Linked DNA regions of Homo sapiens. The protein of the gene in region 2 interacts with the protein of the main gene of each other region in a pairwise test. Each region holds a gene or a part of one and is shown on either strand. Other genes may lie near its edges.

Region 1 (8,031 bases), on a different chromosome or scaffold from region 2:
GACTCATAAAATTACCCTTACTGTTTATTATAACTTCAGAAGTAATTTATAGTTCTGAACCTATAGTATCTTTTACCCTGTTCCCAAGCAAAGACTGGTGACTTTATCTGAAAATGATTCCTCTTCCCATGACCTAAAACACTGTGAGGAAAAATCATTCAAGTGGCATGCCAAGTCCCTATGAAGGAAGGGCTGCTATCAAACCTACCTTTTTTGAGCAAACTGAGACTAAACTTCTCTCTTTTCAAAATTGTGTTATCTTCCTTAATCCTATTTTCATAATTTTTCCTTTTGCCAGTTTTTCACATTATCTTTGATATGTGAGCAACATTTATTATTTACATTAGAGTATACCTTTTAGTAATAAAATGACTTGAAATCATATTATTTTTAAAAGCCCTTTGCTTCTTTCATTACTTATAATCTCCTCTAAAACAACCTCTGCATGTTTTTTTTAAATAAAGCACTTTCTGTCAAATAATGGACTTTTTTCTAAACAGAAATTATTTTCTATTAATTTGCAAACTGATGATTTCACTTTTTTTTACTTTTTTTTCGATTATCAGAGTACTTAGTAAATGTTATATAGTTTAGTTCTAAGATAGTTCCAGGGATTAAAAGGTTAAGAGGAAAACACAAATCACCAAATTTCTGATTTATGTTTTTATCTCCTGAACAATATTTTCTCACTCATATTCCTCTATCTTATCACTTAGCTAAAGACAGCCTAAATTTCCCAATTTTCTGTCCAAAATATTTGTGATTTACTTGTATATAAGCCTTCTCATTTGCCATGTGCTGTGATCTTACAAGTTAGATGTTACTATACCTACCATTTATTCAGCTGGATTGCTGAACACAGTTCTGGATTCATAGAATTAAGAATATCTTGTTAGTGCCCAGGATTTCCACGTTTTGTGTTTTATTGGCCCTTTTCTTTATTCAGCCCCTTAATCTATTTTCAGTCTTCTGGCACGTAATTTTTTTCACAGTTATTATTCTTCTATTAACAAATTATTTTTATCTTTCCTAGTACATTTTCACTTAGTTCTCTTGCCCTTAAATATCTTTCACATGCATTTTAGGATATTCTTTTCAAATATTTGTAGGACAACTTTGAATCAAAATAAATTATGTTCCTTCTCCAATTTGAAGCATTGAGGATAAATGACCATTTGAGGTCTAACTGATCTTTTCCTGCCAGAAGAGTTATCTTACGTTCTGCTATATTTGTATTTGGGCCAGTTGATTGTAGGTTGTCCAACATTTTTTAATATTGGGAAAATTATGATAAAATGCTTTAAAAATTAATATGCCAGATTAAAATAACTGAATAGTTTACTATTTCATTCAAGCATGTTTAAAACAAATAATTTCCTTTCACCAGTTTTTCTTAGTAAACTCCTGAAAAAGTAGGAAAGGTGGAAAGTATATATCATTTTTATAAATTTTAAATTGTACATCAGACTTTTAAAATCTGTAATATACAAGCAAGCAAAATTATTTTAAATGACTTAATTGTATGCTAATACTCATCTGATAATAAATGCTTCTTAAAGTTGACATTTAACTGCTATCACAAAGTTTTATATGTAGAAAAGTGGGGTCCTTTTGAATAAAAGATCATTCAACTAAAAATATTAAAATTTATTTCACTGGATGGTAATGTAACCTTAAAAGCATCATAATAGGTAAAGTCTAATATTAGTTCCCTTAACAAAATCCTAACTGTATACCAGAATTAGGTCACTGAAAGAACTTGATTTGAATTACGTTTAGACAAAAATGATTTAATTGTAAATTCTTAAAACTTTCTAAATGCATAATTGGCAAAAAAAAAAACCCACTGTTACCAGTGTAGGAAGTTACAAGAAGGCACATACTGAATGCTGAAGTATACATATGCTATTTCTCTTAAACCTCAGAGCAACCATATGAGCATTGTAATTAATATTCCCATTTTACAGATGAGGAAACTGAAGCTAAGAGAAGCTAAGTAATATGCCCAAGGTCCACATCTAGTAACAGACAAAGCTGGGATTTCAGTCTATGTCTGCCTCTCTCCACATCTCTTTCATCCATACCACACTGCCTACATGCCATATGACAGGATGTGTAATGGGCTAACGTTTATTTAAAAAGTTCAGGCCAGGTGCAGTGGCTTATGCCTATAATCCCCGCACTTTGGGAGGCCGAGCCGGGTGGATCATGAGGTCAGACGTTCAACACCAGCCTGGCCAAGATGGTGAAACCCCGTCTCTATTAAAAATATTTTTTAAAAATTAACTGAGCGTGGTGGTGGGCGCCTGTAGTCCCAGCTACTCAGGAGGCTAAGGCAGGAGAATCTCTTGAACCCGAGAGGTGGAGGTTGCAGTGAGCTGAGATCGCGCCACTGCACTGCAGCCTAGGCGACAGAGCAAGACTGCCTCAAAAAAAAAACATAAAAATTCAGTCACTATACTCTGGCACAATTTTCATTTGTATATGAGCCAAACCACATACCTTAATGATTTGGGAAGTTAGGCAAATATGAGATATGTAGACATATCTATGCTGATTGTTGCTTGAGAAATAATTACTAATTCTAGACAAAACTCAATCCTGTATCTTCCATCATGAATCTTAAAATCATTTCACTTCACTCCTAACATTTCTTACATTGCAGAACTAATGGTAAAGTAAATTTTACGGAAAAAGTTAAGATAGCTTTGGGAACAGAGACCTTTCCCTAAATTGATTCCATAGCAGATTTGGGGGAATTAACAAAGAATTTCAGTCTCATCAATCCTTTGAATCCATCTTCAAAACTTCTGCTTTTAATAACTTTAGAAAATTTACTAATCTATAGAACTAATTGAGTAGGATATAGGAAGGATACAAGGATATAATGTCCTTTTTATAAAAGTTTAGTATAGCTTCTTTACATGTATCCACTTGTTCCAGAAAATGTGCATTGGTTCTGAATGTGAAAATATTTAAAGAGAGAAAGGAACACTCAAGTAAGTGTGGGCTTCAGTGGGAATTATCACAAAACATTGGCAAGTATTTTTATTTAAATTATTTTCAAATTTGACTTCTACAGCCAAGTGGAATTGGTAGGCTGTAGCTGTTACACTGAAATTTCTAGTCTTTGTAAGTGCCTCCTGAAAGTCATTTAAAATGGAAAAATATTTCAATGAGCTTTTCCTTTTTTCATATTTATGGACATGAATATTTTATTGGAGATCATTAACTCCTAGAATTTGAGATTATATTTCCATACAACATTTTATAAAGTTATGTTGAACTTACTACCTGTTATGTGCAGGTTATTATGTAACTATTCACAGATTGCTTCATATATTGCTTTATCTTCCCATCTAACTTCTTAAAGTTAAAATCCGGACACACATGTTGATTATCTAGACCAGTCATTCTGGAAATTGTAACACTCCCACATAAACCCCAGGAGACTTTTTCAGAATGCAATGTTTCTAAATGTACTGTTACTGGCAGTTTACTCTCCAGCATATAAGGTTGCATTTTAACTTTTAGATTATGAACTGTGCAAACTTTACCCAAAACTATCTTGCATGATTCCCTCCTAAATATATTCCTTGATTAAGTAAATCTGGCAAATCACTGTTTGAGCTAGTTACATAAAATTTGTTATCAAGAGAAGGCTTTTCTACAAGTTTCCAGATTAACATAAAGAAAAGAGGGAATCACAGGGCATTTAAGTGCACCTTCCCATTACTTTCCTTAAATCACCTCATAGTTAGGCTGGGCGCGGTGGCTCACGCCTGTAATCCCAGCACTTTGGGAGGCCGAGACGGTGGATCACGAGGTCAGGGGACTGAGATCATCCTGGCTAACACGATGAAACCTCATCTCTACTAAAAATACAAATAATTAGCCAGGCATGGTGGCACGCGCCTGTAGTCCCAGCTACTCGGGAGGCAGAGACAGGAGAATCGTTTGCACCCGGGAGGCGGAGGTTGTTGCAGTGAGCCGAGATCGCGCCAATGCACTCCAGCCTGGGCTACAGAGTGAGACTCCATCTCAAAAAAAAACAAAAAAAATCACCTCATAGTTTATGTCTGACTTACTCCAAACCTCAGTTATCTGATTTGTAGTCTGTGTCAGGAAAGTTTTCTTCATATCTATTCTGTCTCCCTCCTCTTTGATTTTAAATTTTTTTCTTTTACCCAGTAGGACAAAAAAGAGCAGTTGGTCATCATCCCCAATATTCTTAGTCTTCAGTATGCTTCAGGCCTCTCAATGAACACTTAAGTCTCAATTCTTCAGACAAAATTGCTTAAGCTCTTCTCCTCAGTCCTATTTTAATGACTTTATATTTAAGAATATAGAATTATATTTTCTTTTATATTCAAATTCATTACTCCAGTTAAGTAATAGTTTGATAGTTTGATAGAATCGAGAGTTAAGATGTTTCTATTTGAAAGTGGATTCAACCATCAGACCACCAGCAAATCGGCACTTAATTTTTGTGTTATCTAACATTTTCTATTGTGGAATTTTATGATTTTATATTCTCATTAGTTATAACTAAAAAGCCATGCACACAGAATTGTATATCATTTTGCCATTAAAATTTTTTAACATATTGCAGCAAGCTTAGTTTTATGATTGAGCCACAACCTTTTACATATTTTTTGTATGAAATATTAAACACTAAATGCAAGATTAACTTTCAAAAGCAAACCCTACATTAATCAGGTATTATCTATGGACATTTTTGTAGACCACTTTTGAAATACTTATTATTTTGCAACATAGACTGGACTATACAACTTTCATTTAACTTTTAGGTGACTGATTTAAGTTGAGTGTGCATATAGAGAAAAACCTAGAAATTTATCTCATGGCAGATACATTTGAAAGTACTTCAGAAGAATTTATGCTGTATATTAAAACTAGGCTCAAAATAAATCTATCGTATCTTTAAAAGTCCAATTCTGTTATTACTGTGATGTTTGTAGTGTTACTATTAAACATTGTGAACATACACATTTTTAAAACAACTTGAAACCCATTTTAAAATCTGGGTAAGAGAGAAGGAATCTTCAGAACAAAATCACATCATTAGGGTGTCCAGTTTATGATTGAATTTTTAAGCAAATTACTGTATTTGAAACTACAACTTGATTTGGTTTTCAGTTTTAAAAGGCAACATGTGGGTTTTATCCATTTTATTTATACCTTTAGATTTCAGAAACATCTTCATGTTTTAGATGCATTCTACAGACATCATGTTACTTAAAAACTCAGGGCCCCTTTCATCCCTTTGTACACTGAAAAAGTTCAATTGTTAGCAAGTAAGCAATTAGATCCAGTTGAATATTTAAAGTGTTTGTTGCACAGTTCATTTAATGTTTCATCTTATTTGACTTTTTCACATAGATATAATATCAGATTTCATTAATTATAAAAAGTTGCCCAGTTCTGTAATTACTGAACAGAGGGAATGACTCAACTAATTGGCTACATGTTGCAACAAATTTAGGCCTTTAGAGTTGAAGCACTGACTTAAAACGACTTACATTTCTGTTCTTTGGTCAAATGACCATACATGATATGGGACAAATTGTTTCATTTTGTTTGTTTTTTAATAAGGGAACTTGGTAAAGTAGTTCCTGTCAGATAGGATTTTCTCAAGAGACAATTTAACGTTATAAAGCCTTCTAAAAGTGAACTAAATATTTTATAACTTTAGTAATAGCTTGGATGGTTTTGAGAAAATAACCTGTATTTATCACATTGTCAAACAGAATTTTTCTTTGAATCAGACAAGTTCAAGCTCTAAATTGATGTGCTATATACTTAAAATCCTAGGAAGTTATCTGTAACCAGTCTCTTGTCTCAGGCTCTTCACCTTGTTACCAATCCTCGTAAGTATGTAAAGGAAACATATTTTTAAAGAAGCTTAACAGTAAGAAAAAATTACTAAAAGATGCAATTCAAAGATAGGTCCCAGTTTAACACTGAATTGCTTGACTTCTGTGGCTTTTCTTTTTCTGGCCACATTTATTTATTTAAGCAATTTTTGTATGCCTTGTTATTTCATTTCCATAGAGATTATATTGTATCAGTGTTTATGTAAGCTGGAATCATCCTCAGTTTTTTGCTGATAATTTTTCAAATAAAGATACATGGATAATTGTAAAATACACTAACTCTTAGGGTGTTGTAGTAGCTGAAACATGGAGATGCGTAGCTGTCATGCTTTTTCTGAATGGACAGGAGAAACATAAGCTACGGAGTATTCACTTCTGAGGATGCTTTTCCGGAAAAAGAAAGGCTAGAAAATACTCGCACTTCCTCAGAACCCTCTTTCTTGTTAACGGGTATCTTTTGTTGGTGTGTTTTGCTCTTACATTACAGATAGACTATCATATATGACTTTATGAATAATTTCAGTTATTTTGCTTTTGTATAAGCTGTCTGAAGCCTTGCTATGCTGTATAAGTTGTGTTTGATGGATCAGTGTGAGTATAAAATAAAGCAAATCACTTTTCTTTTGTATTATCTATGGATGCCACTATGAAAGCTGACATTAAGCCACTAAAGAGTTTTCTATGAATAAGTGTAAGTAAATGCTTTGATATATATAAACCTAAATAAAAAGATTGTATTGATACAGAGACATTGGAGAAGGAGATTTTAAGGCAGTTCTTTAGGTTTAAAAAGGCTTGCTGTAAAATGGTGCGTTATTCCGTTTATTAAAGATCATATTAATGACAATAGTAATTGTGTTTTTTTATTTTAAGAGGTCACCAGAAATTGTTAGTATGATAATTAGGGAGTTTGCACTAGAATAGTAAATGTTCTATCTAATATGACTTTCATAACTCAGTATGATACATCAAAAAATAAAAAATAAAAAAAAATAAATAGGCCGGGCGTGGTGGCTCACGCCTGTAATCCCAGCACTTTGGGAGGCCGAGGTGGGTGGATCACGAGGTCAGGAGATCGAGACCATCCTGGCTAGCACGGTGAAACCCCGTCTCTACTAAAAATACAAAAAATTAGCCGGGCGCGGTGGCGGGCGCCTGTAGTCCCAGCTACTCGGGAGGCTGAGGCAGGAGAATGGCGTGAACCCGGGAGGCGGAGCTTGCAGTGAGCCGAGATCGCGCCACTGCACTCCAGCCTGGGCGACAGAGCGAGACTACGTCTCAAAAAAAAAAAAAACTAAATTTAGTATAATAGTTGCTATTTTCTGACCATGTATTATATGCCAGGCACTGTGTTAGTTATTTTACATACATTGTTGATAATTCTCACAACAATCCTACATAATATGTATTACTATCCCCCTTTTATAAATGAAGAAACTGAAAGAGAAATTAAATACTCTGCCCAGTCACAGAACTGGCAAGTGAGATTGTAACGCATTTTACGTTTTGCTTTGAACTGCAATTTTCAAGCTCTCCTTGTGGCAAGAGAAACTCAAAAATAAAAATAAAACTGGCCGGGCGTGGTGGCTCACGCCTATAATCCCAGCACTTTGGGAGGCCGAGGCAGGTGGATAACGTGAGGTCAGGAGTTCGAGACCAGCTTGACCAACATGGAGAAACCCCGTCTCTACTAAAAATACAAAATTAGCTGGGTGTGGTGGTGCATGCCTGTAATCCCAGCTACTCGGGAGGCTGAGGCAGAAGGAGAATCGCTTGAATCCGGGAAGCAGAGGTTGTGGTGAGCTGATATCGCACCATTGCACTCCAGCCTGGGCAACAAGAGTGAAACTCCGTCTAAAAAATAAACAAATAATAAAAACAGTTCAGTAGTTAGAGTAACCAGGAATATTCATGGAGTAATTTAAAGGTGCAGAAAGCTATCAGGTACCAAAACAGCTATTTTTATTGGCCTAATATTGTGTTTGTGCTTCACATCATCAAATAATCTTTTGGGTTGGATCTAGTATTTTAAATAGAAGGCCTTGTTAAAGCAGAATATGAGTTTGTGAAGGCACACATTGTTTGTCTCCAGATTAATTCAATGTGTTAGCGAAGTGTCCTGGAGCAGGATCTC
Region 2 (8,108 bases):
CACCAGATCACACTTCCTGAGAATGCTTCCCAACTCCCTTCCCACCCTGCAGGAAGCGAGTTGCCCGTGTGTGCAAGCTGCGGCCAGAGGATCTATGATGGCCAGTACCTCCAGGCCCTGAACGCGGACTGGCACGCAGACTGCTTCAGGTAGGGTGGGGTGCCCAGGGCCTGTGTTGCCCTAAACAAGGCCTGCCAGAGAGGACAGGCTGGTCAAGGAATGGGGGAGGCCGGGATATGCCTCCTGGTGCCGTCCCCTATTGTGACTTCGTGGCCTTAATTTACCATTTATGACATGAGGTGTTTTGACTAGAAAATCCCTACAGGCCTTCCTGTTGTCATTTTATTTATCTATTTTTTTTTCTTTTTGAGACGGAGTCTCGCTCTGTCACCCAGGCTGGAGTACAGTGGTGCGATCTTGGCTCATTGCAACCTCTTCCTCCTGGGCTCACGCAGTTCTCCTGTGTCAGCCTCTGGAGTAGCTGGGATTACAGGCGTGCACCACCACGCCCAGCTAATTTTTGTATTTTTAGTAGAGACGGGTTTTGCCATGTTAGCCAGGCTGGTCTGAAACTTCTGACCTCAAGTGATCTTCCCACCTCAGCCTCCCAAAGTGCTGGGATGACAGACATAAACCACCGCTCCTGGCCTCATTTTATTTTCTTTTATGTATTTTTCTTTTTTCGAAATGGTCTTGCTCTGTTGCCCAGGCTGGAGTGCAGTGGTGCCATCTCGGCTCATTGCAACCTCCATCTCCCGGGCTAAAGTGATCCTCCTACTTCAGCCTCCCGAGTAGCTGGGATTATAGGTATACACCACAATGCTCAGCTAATTTTTTAAATTTTGTGTAAAGACAGGGTCTCACTATTGAGACCCAGGCTGGTCTTGAACTTGTGACCTCAAGCAATCCTCCTGCCTTGGCCTCCGAAAGTGCTAGGCTTACAGGCGTGAGCTAACGCCTTGGCCTCTGTTGTCATCCTAGATCTCTGAGATCTAAATCTTAGAGAGGATGGGAGAGACCTCCAATTGAGCCAGTGCCTGCAATTCAGCCCCCTGCTGGCACCCAGACAGGGGGAAGAGTTGGAAGGAATGTCCCTCCTGCCTTCTGGGTGTTCATGCTCTTGCAGGGAGGGAAGACAAACCAGGCCTTAAGGGAAACCAGGCCACCCTCAGTGTCTTCCAGGCTGCTTGCGAACATGCATAACCCAGTCACACCAGCCCCAGTGTCCAGACACACACCCACAGGTAGGAAGAAAGTAGGGTCAGGGTTGTGGCGGAGGATAAAGAGTACATGAGGACCTGAAGGTCACCCAGTAGGACCATCCTGAGAAGCCAGGAGCAGGGGTCTACCTGCCTTGAGCCAGAGCAGGGCCAGAGCAGGGGTCTCAAAGGATGTGAGATTTCCTGGGTAGAAAAGTAGAGTGGAGGTGGGGCGTGGTGGCTCACACCTATAATCCCATCACTTTTTGGGGCTGAGGTGGGCAGATCACTTGAGTTCAGGAGTTCGAGACAAGCCTGGGCAATATGGCAACACCCTGTCTCCACTGAAAATACAAAAAATTAGCCGGGCGTGGTGGCGCATGCCTGTAGTCCCAGCTACTCAAGAGGCTGAGGTGGCAGGGTTACTTGAGCCTGGGAGGTGGAGGCTGCAGTGAGCTATGATCGCACCACTGCACTCTAGCCTGGGCAATAGAGCGAGACCCAGTCTCAATTTTTAAAAAAGAAAGAAAGAAAAACAAATGGTGTGGGAGAGAATTACAGGCATAGTCACCAAACAGCAAGGTTCAGGGGAGAAAACTCCATAAAAGGGTAGAAGGTGAAGCTTCTGGGATGCCCAGCAGGGGTCAAGACATCCACCACTAGGACTTTATTTTAGGCTTCTGCCTTGGTTTATTTTTTGGTTTTTGGTTTTTTTGAGACAGTCTTGTTGTGTCGCCCAGGCTGGGGAGCAGTGGCGCGATCCCTCCTCACTGCAACCTCCGCCTCCCAGGTTCAAGCGATTCTCCTGCTTCAGCCTCCCAAGTAGCTGGGATTACAGGTGTGCACCACCACGCCCGGCTAAGTTTTGTATTTTCAGTAGAGATAGGGTTTTGCCATGTTGGCCAGGCTGGTCTCGAACTCCTGACCTCAAGTGATCTGCCCGCCTCAGCCTCCCAAAATGCTGGAATTACAGGCATGAGCCACTGCACCTGGCCTCGGTTTGTTTTTTTGTTTCTTCTTTTCTTTTTTTTTACACAGGGTCTTGCTGTGTCACCCAGGCTGGCGTGCAGTGGTGAGATCATAGCCCACTGTAGCCTCCAGCTCCAACTGGTTCAAGCGATCCTTCTGACTCAGCCTCCCAAAGTGCTGGGATTACAAGCATAAGCCACCATGCCCAGCCTGTTTTTTCTTTTTTAGGAATAACGTCTAACGTTTTCTAACATTCAGTAAGGGACAACCCCTGTTCTAAGTACTTTGCATAGTTAGATATTAGTGCTGTCTTTGTTTTGCCAGAGAGAAAATTGGGACACAGAGAGGTTAATTCTCTTGATGAAAGTCACACAGCCAGTGAGTGAAATGAACACACTCAGTGTGGCTGAAAGGAGACAGACAGCATGCCCTGGGATTCTGCATCAGGTGCTCAGAAAGAGGCCTTCGGGGGGCAAGAGGGCTCTCAACAGGCAGAGGAAACCATCTGCACAGCGGTGGGATGGTGCGGACTGCTGAGGGAACAGGAACAGTTCCCTTGGAAGGAACAGAATAAGCTGAGGGATCCAACAAGAAACAAAGTTGAGACCGATTCGTGAAGGGCCTTGAATGCCAAGATAAGGAGTTTCAGAAGTCAGGATGGGGGTGGTGGCTCATCCCCGTAATCCCAGCACTTTGGGAGGCCGAGGCAGGCAGATCACTTGACCCCAGGAGCTTGAGACCAGCCTGGCCAACGTGGTGAAACCCCCGTCTCTACTAAATATTCAAAAATTAGCCAGGCATGGTGGCACATGACTGTAATCCAAGCTACTCGGGAGGCTAAGGAAGGAGAATCACTTGAACCTGGGAGGCGGAGGCTGCAGTGAGCTGAGATCACGTCACTGCACTCCAGCCTGGGAGACAGAGCGAGACTCCATCTCAAAAAAAAAAAAAAAAAAAAATAGAAGGGAGTCGGCAGAAAGCCAGGGAGGGGCTGGGGTGACATGCTGTTGAAGAATGCCATCCCAGTGGGCCGGTGGTGGTATCTAGGCAGGGAAGGGACTGTCCCAGTAACTCAAGGGTCTGAGCTCATAGGACCTGACCTGGGACAGTGACTGAGGATGGAGAGAATTTCAGGCAGAAGGGACAGTTTTTGGTGAGTATTTGTCATATTGGCTACCATGCATTGAGCACTCTTCATGCTAATTTGTTAAATCTTCATCATAACTCTATGAGGGACTGTATGTGCCCAGTTTGCATGGGAGAAACAGAGATTCCATGCAATCAAGTGCCTCGCTGAAGGTTGTAACATCTAGAGCTGGGACTAAAACCTTCTCACTCCACATCGCCACAGAGTAGGAAAGGCAGGGGCTGGCGGTGGCACATGCCTATAATCCCAGCCCTTTGGGAGGCGGAGGCAGGTGGATCTCTTGAGCCCAGGAGTTTGAGACCAGTGTGGGCAACATAGTGAAACCTTGTCTCTACAAAAAAATTAGCTGAGCATGGTGGTGGTGCCTGTAGTCCCAGCTACTCAAGGGCGCTGACATGGGAGGGTTGCTTGAGCCTGGGAGGTGGAGGTTGCAGTGAGCTATGATCACACCACTGCAAGCCAGCCTGGGTGACAGAGTGAAATCCCATCTCAAAAAAAAGAAAGAAAGGAAGAAAGAAAAAGACAGGGGCTTCGGGGAGGGCATGGGCACTGGCGAATGGCAGGGTGGAACCTGAAGCCATCTGGTTTTCTAACCTGGGCACTGGGGAGTTGGTGGTTTGTTGACTCTGATGGAATTGGGGGTCATGTTGGGGAGGAGACATGCTCATCTGTGTTGAGCTGGAGGGGACATGGGCTATCCATGGTGGCTGTGTCCTGCCCAGAGCTAGCCATGGGAGCCTGAGTCCAGTTGGAGGTAGGAAAGTCAGAAAAAACGGCCGCCTCGGAGCTGGCCCTGAGATGGTGAGTGGGATTTGTGATAGGGCCAAGACGAATGAAGGGAAGAACTTTGGGGACCCCTGTGTCTGCGGTGAGGGGGGAGATGGAGCCTTGGGTGATGGAGAGAGGGTCAGGAGTAGAGCCACAGAAGCCACAGGAGGGAAGCCGTGTTACAGGATGGGTGTACCTGGCTTTGGAGTGGCCTGTCCCAAATCACTCACCAGGAGAGGGGTGAGTCCCCAGGTCAGGGCAGTAAAGAGGAGGCATGTTTGTGCTGTCCCTGGTGTAGTGAAACTCAAGAAGGAAGCCAGGTGCAGTGGCTCACGCCTGTAATCCCAGCACTTTGGGAGGCCAAGGCAGGCAGATCACCTGAGGTCGGGAGTTTGAGACCAGTCTGGCCAACATGGTGAAACCCCATCTCTACTAAAAATACAAAAATTAGCCGGGCCTGTTGGTGGGCGCCTGTAATCCCAGCTACTCAGGAGGCTGAGGCAGAAGAATCGCTTGAACCCGAGAGGCAGTGATTGCAGTGAGTCAAGATCGCGCCACTGCACTCTAGCCTGGGTGACAGAGCAAGACTCCATCTCGAAAAAAAAAAGTCTCAATATGGGGAAAGATCCACTAGAAGTAAGAGCCATGGCTTCTACCTCGTGGCTTGTGGGTGTGATACTCCCAACAGTCCCCAAAGCTGGTGGTCCTCACCGCGTGACAGTGAGCAGAGCAGCTCAGAGGGGGTCACTGCTCACCTGGGTGCATGGCTGACCACAGCCAGGCTGGCTCTCAGTGGGATGCCCAAGGTGCTAGACTCTGCTTAGTCTCCCTCGGGCCCTGGGCTTGAGGCATTGGGCCCGGCCCAGACCTCATTTCATGCACTGAGACCTTTGTTCCAGGGCCCCTCACCCCTCTGAAGGTGTTCGGGCAGGGGCAATGTGATAAGGCCATGAGGGGTCTGCAGCCTCCAGCCCCACTGGGGAGGTGGCCAGTGATTTCCACTTTCCTGGCCCCTCTGCATGCCCCTCCCAGTGGAACTTCCTAGGGTCCCTGAGTCAGTCACTTGCAAATAATTATGGCGTGCCCACTCTGCATTAGGCCCCTCTCACAACAACCCAGTAAGGGGGTGCTATTTATTTATTAAAGCGATTTTTTTTTTGAGTCTCGCTCTGTCGCCCAGGCTGGAGTGCGGTGGCGCAATCTCGGCTTACTGCAAGCTCTGCCTCCCGGGTTCACACCATTCTCCTGCCTCAGCCTCCCAAGTAGCTGGGACTACAGGCGCCCACCACCACACCCGGCTAATTTTTTTTTGTTTGTTTGTATTTTTAGTACAGACGAGGTTTCGCTGTGTGAGCCAGGATGGTCTCGATCTCCTGACCTCGTGATCCGCCCACCTCAGCCTCCCAAAGTGCTGGGATTACAGGCGTGAGCCACCGTGCCCGGCAATATTAAAGCGATTTTAAGGCCAAGGCTGGTAACTCACGCCTGTAATCCCAGCACTTTGGGAGGCTGAGGCAGGAGGACTGCTTGAGGCCAGGAGTTTGAGATCAACCTAGGCAACATAGTGAGACTCCATCTCTACAAAAAAATTAGCCAGGCGTGGTGGTGCGTACCTGTAGTCCCAGCTACTCAGGAGGCTGAGATGGGAGGATCATTTGAACCCAGGATGTCGAAGCTGCAGTGAGCTGTGATCACGCCACTGCACTCTGGCCTGGGCAACAGAGCGAGACACTGTCTCAAATTTTTAAAAAGCGATTTTACAAATGAGGTGCAGAGTTCAGTCACTTGCCAAAAGTCTCACAGCGCGTGAGGAGTAGAATCAGGACTCGAACCGAGGCAGCCTGGCTTCAGAGCCTACAGTGTAACCACAGCTTAGTCCCACACCTCCCAGACCAACAGGGTCCCTGCCTTCTAGTGGGCAAGACACTCAGTGAACAAATGTAGTGTCAGGTATTGGGGGACAGCACTCTCAGGAAGTGATGTTTAAGGGACAGAATTGAAGGGAGCAGTGTTTAGAGGATGTCGGGGGTAGGGCCGGTGCATGTGCAAAGGCCTTGGGGTGGGAATGTGCTTGGCACAACTGAGGACCACAAAGCCAGCGTGCGGGAGTGCAGTCAGTGGCCAGGGGTGCATAGAGCCTTGTGGGCCCCGTGGAAGGTGCCGTTGGCTGTACAGCTTTTTTTTTTTTTTTTTTTTTTTTTTTTTGAGACAGAGTCTCGCTTTTGTTGCCCAGGCTGGAGTGCAGTGGCGTGATCTCAGCTCACTGCAACCTCCGCCTCCCGGGTTCAAGCGATTCTCCTGCCTCAGCTTCCTGGTAGCTGGGACTACAGGCGCCCACCACCACACCTGGCTAATTTTTGTGTTTTTAATAGAGACGGGGTTTCACCATGTTAGCCAGGCTGGCCTCAAACTCCTGACCTCAAGCGATCTGTCTACCTCAGCCTCCCAAAGTGCTGGGGTTACAGGCATGAGCCACTGCGCACAGGCAGCTGTGCATCTTTGAATGTCATAACCTGAGCATCTGAGAGCTGCTCCTGTCCCCTGGCCCCTGCTCTTGAGGAAGTCCCACGCTGATAGGACAGACAGGGTCATAAGTGCTGTGATGGGGGCCTGCAGGCTGCTGGAGGGCTCAGCCGGGACCAGATGCTGCCCCTCTTTGTAGAGTGGGACAATTGCTGCAGGCCCATGGGACCTCTGGTATTAGCCCTGAGGGTTGTCACTCCGGGGCCTGCCCCTTTCTGTGTTCTGACCTCCCAGCCCCTTGCAGGCCCTGCCTCCCGGAAGGTTATGACCAGGCTTGGACTGGTCCAGGCTTCCCTTTGGCTCACATACTGCCTCTGCGAGGTCCCCTCCAGGAAGCCTCCTGTGCACAACCCCCAGGGCTGCCGCATCCCTGGTAGCATCTCCTTGGCAGCTGGGTGGGCTGGCCCTGGGCAAGGAGGGCTGAGCATGCTGCTGGCCTGTGGGGTTGGAGCAGCGGCGGGATGCAACCTCCCTTTCTTCAGGGGACCTTTTTGGCGAAGACAAACTGTCCATAGGAAGTCGACCTCTGTTCCCTTGGGGGCAGCAGTGGAAGAGGCAGCTGCTTTTGAGCTTGTCCCTGTCCCCAGAGAAGCCTGAGGCCTTCAGTGCCGTTGCCAGGGCCGAGGCTGAGGAGCCTACAGCGTGTGTTCAGGACTGAGGGCCAGGGACGGGCCACAGGCTCCCTGCCTGGGGTCCAAGCCTAGATCGCTCGCTCCCCACCCGCACCAAAGCCCAGGCAAAGGGTGCTTCAGCCACTTCCTGTTGCAGGCTCAGACCAAGTCCCCTGGCACCCACGCGGCTGCAGCCTCCTCCTGTGCGCTGCAGCCACGCTGGCCCCACCCTCTGCAGCCTCCAATCCTGAGCCCCTGAGGGAGGATGGGGAAGCAGCTGGTCTGGCCACCCCTGCCCTCCCTTAGACCTCCAGAGCCCCCAGTGTAGCCACAGAGGATGCTGTTGGCTTCAGCCCCAAGAAGACGCCGCTTCCTCCAGAGGGCTAAGTAAGTGGGAATCCCCCTCCCTACTTGTCCTGGGCTCCAGGCAGGGCCCCTGGTGTAAGGCCTGGGGCTGGAAGCCGACCCACCTAGGTCCAGGCTCTGGGGCAGAACTGAAACTCCTTGGTTACTGTCGGCTGCAGCCTGGGAGCAGGCCACTGCCAAAGCTGTGGGTCCTTCCAGGACAGTCTCCCCATGAGGCCGGTCCTCCACCTGCTGTTTCTTCACACCTGGTGGCCAGGGATGTGGCCCTGGGTAGAACGATGATTCTCCACTCCTGTCATTATGGAAGCCACCGCTGTCTCCCAGCCCAGCCAGCCACCTGGGCTGCAGAGCACCCCTTTCATGCCCTCCGGGTGCCTCCCCCTTCTCCTGCCCCAGCCTGGCTTTGTCCTACCCTGCTCTCAGGGAGGGGTACCCTGGAGTGGGGCCAGGGCATGGCTCTCCCCCGAGGGAGTTCCTCTCTGGCTGTCCCCAGGGCAGCTCTGCACAGCCTCAGTACCTGGCGCA

What was found. The genes of interacting proteins can lie anywhere in the genome.
Region 1: the proteins of LIMK1 (region 2) and BMPR2 interact in a two-hybrid assay, tested with the Homo sapiens proteins (one study listed by BioGRID).

The regions. Positions count from the first base shown.
Region 1 is NC_000002.12:202,561,006-202,569,036, forward strand, and holds the end of BMPR2 (bone morphogenetic protein receptor type-2 precursor), read left to right. Parts: 3' UTR 1-6,744; downstream 6,745-8,031. UniProt on the Homo sapiens protein: On ligand binding, forms a receptor complex consisting of two type II and two type I transmembrane serine/threonine kinases.
Region 2 is NC_000007.14:74,085,696-74,093,803, forward strand, and holds part of LIMK1 (LIM domain kinase 1), read left to right. Parts: intron 1-52; coding exon 53-149; intron 150-7,521; exon of another isoform or gene 7,522-7,554; coding exon of another isoform or gene 7,555-7,604; intron 7,605-8,108. UniProt on the Homo sapiens protein: Serine/threonine-protein kinase that plays an essential role in the regulation of actin filament dynamics. Acts downstream of several Rho family GTPase signal transduction pathways.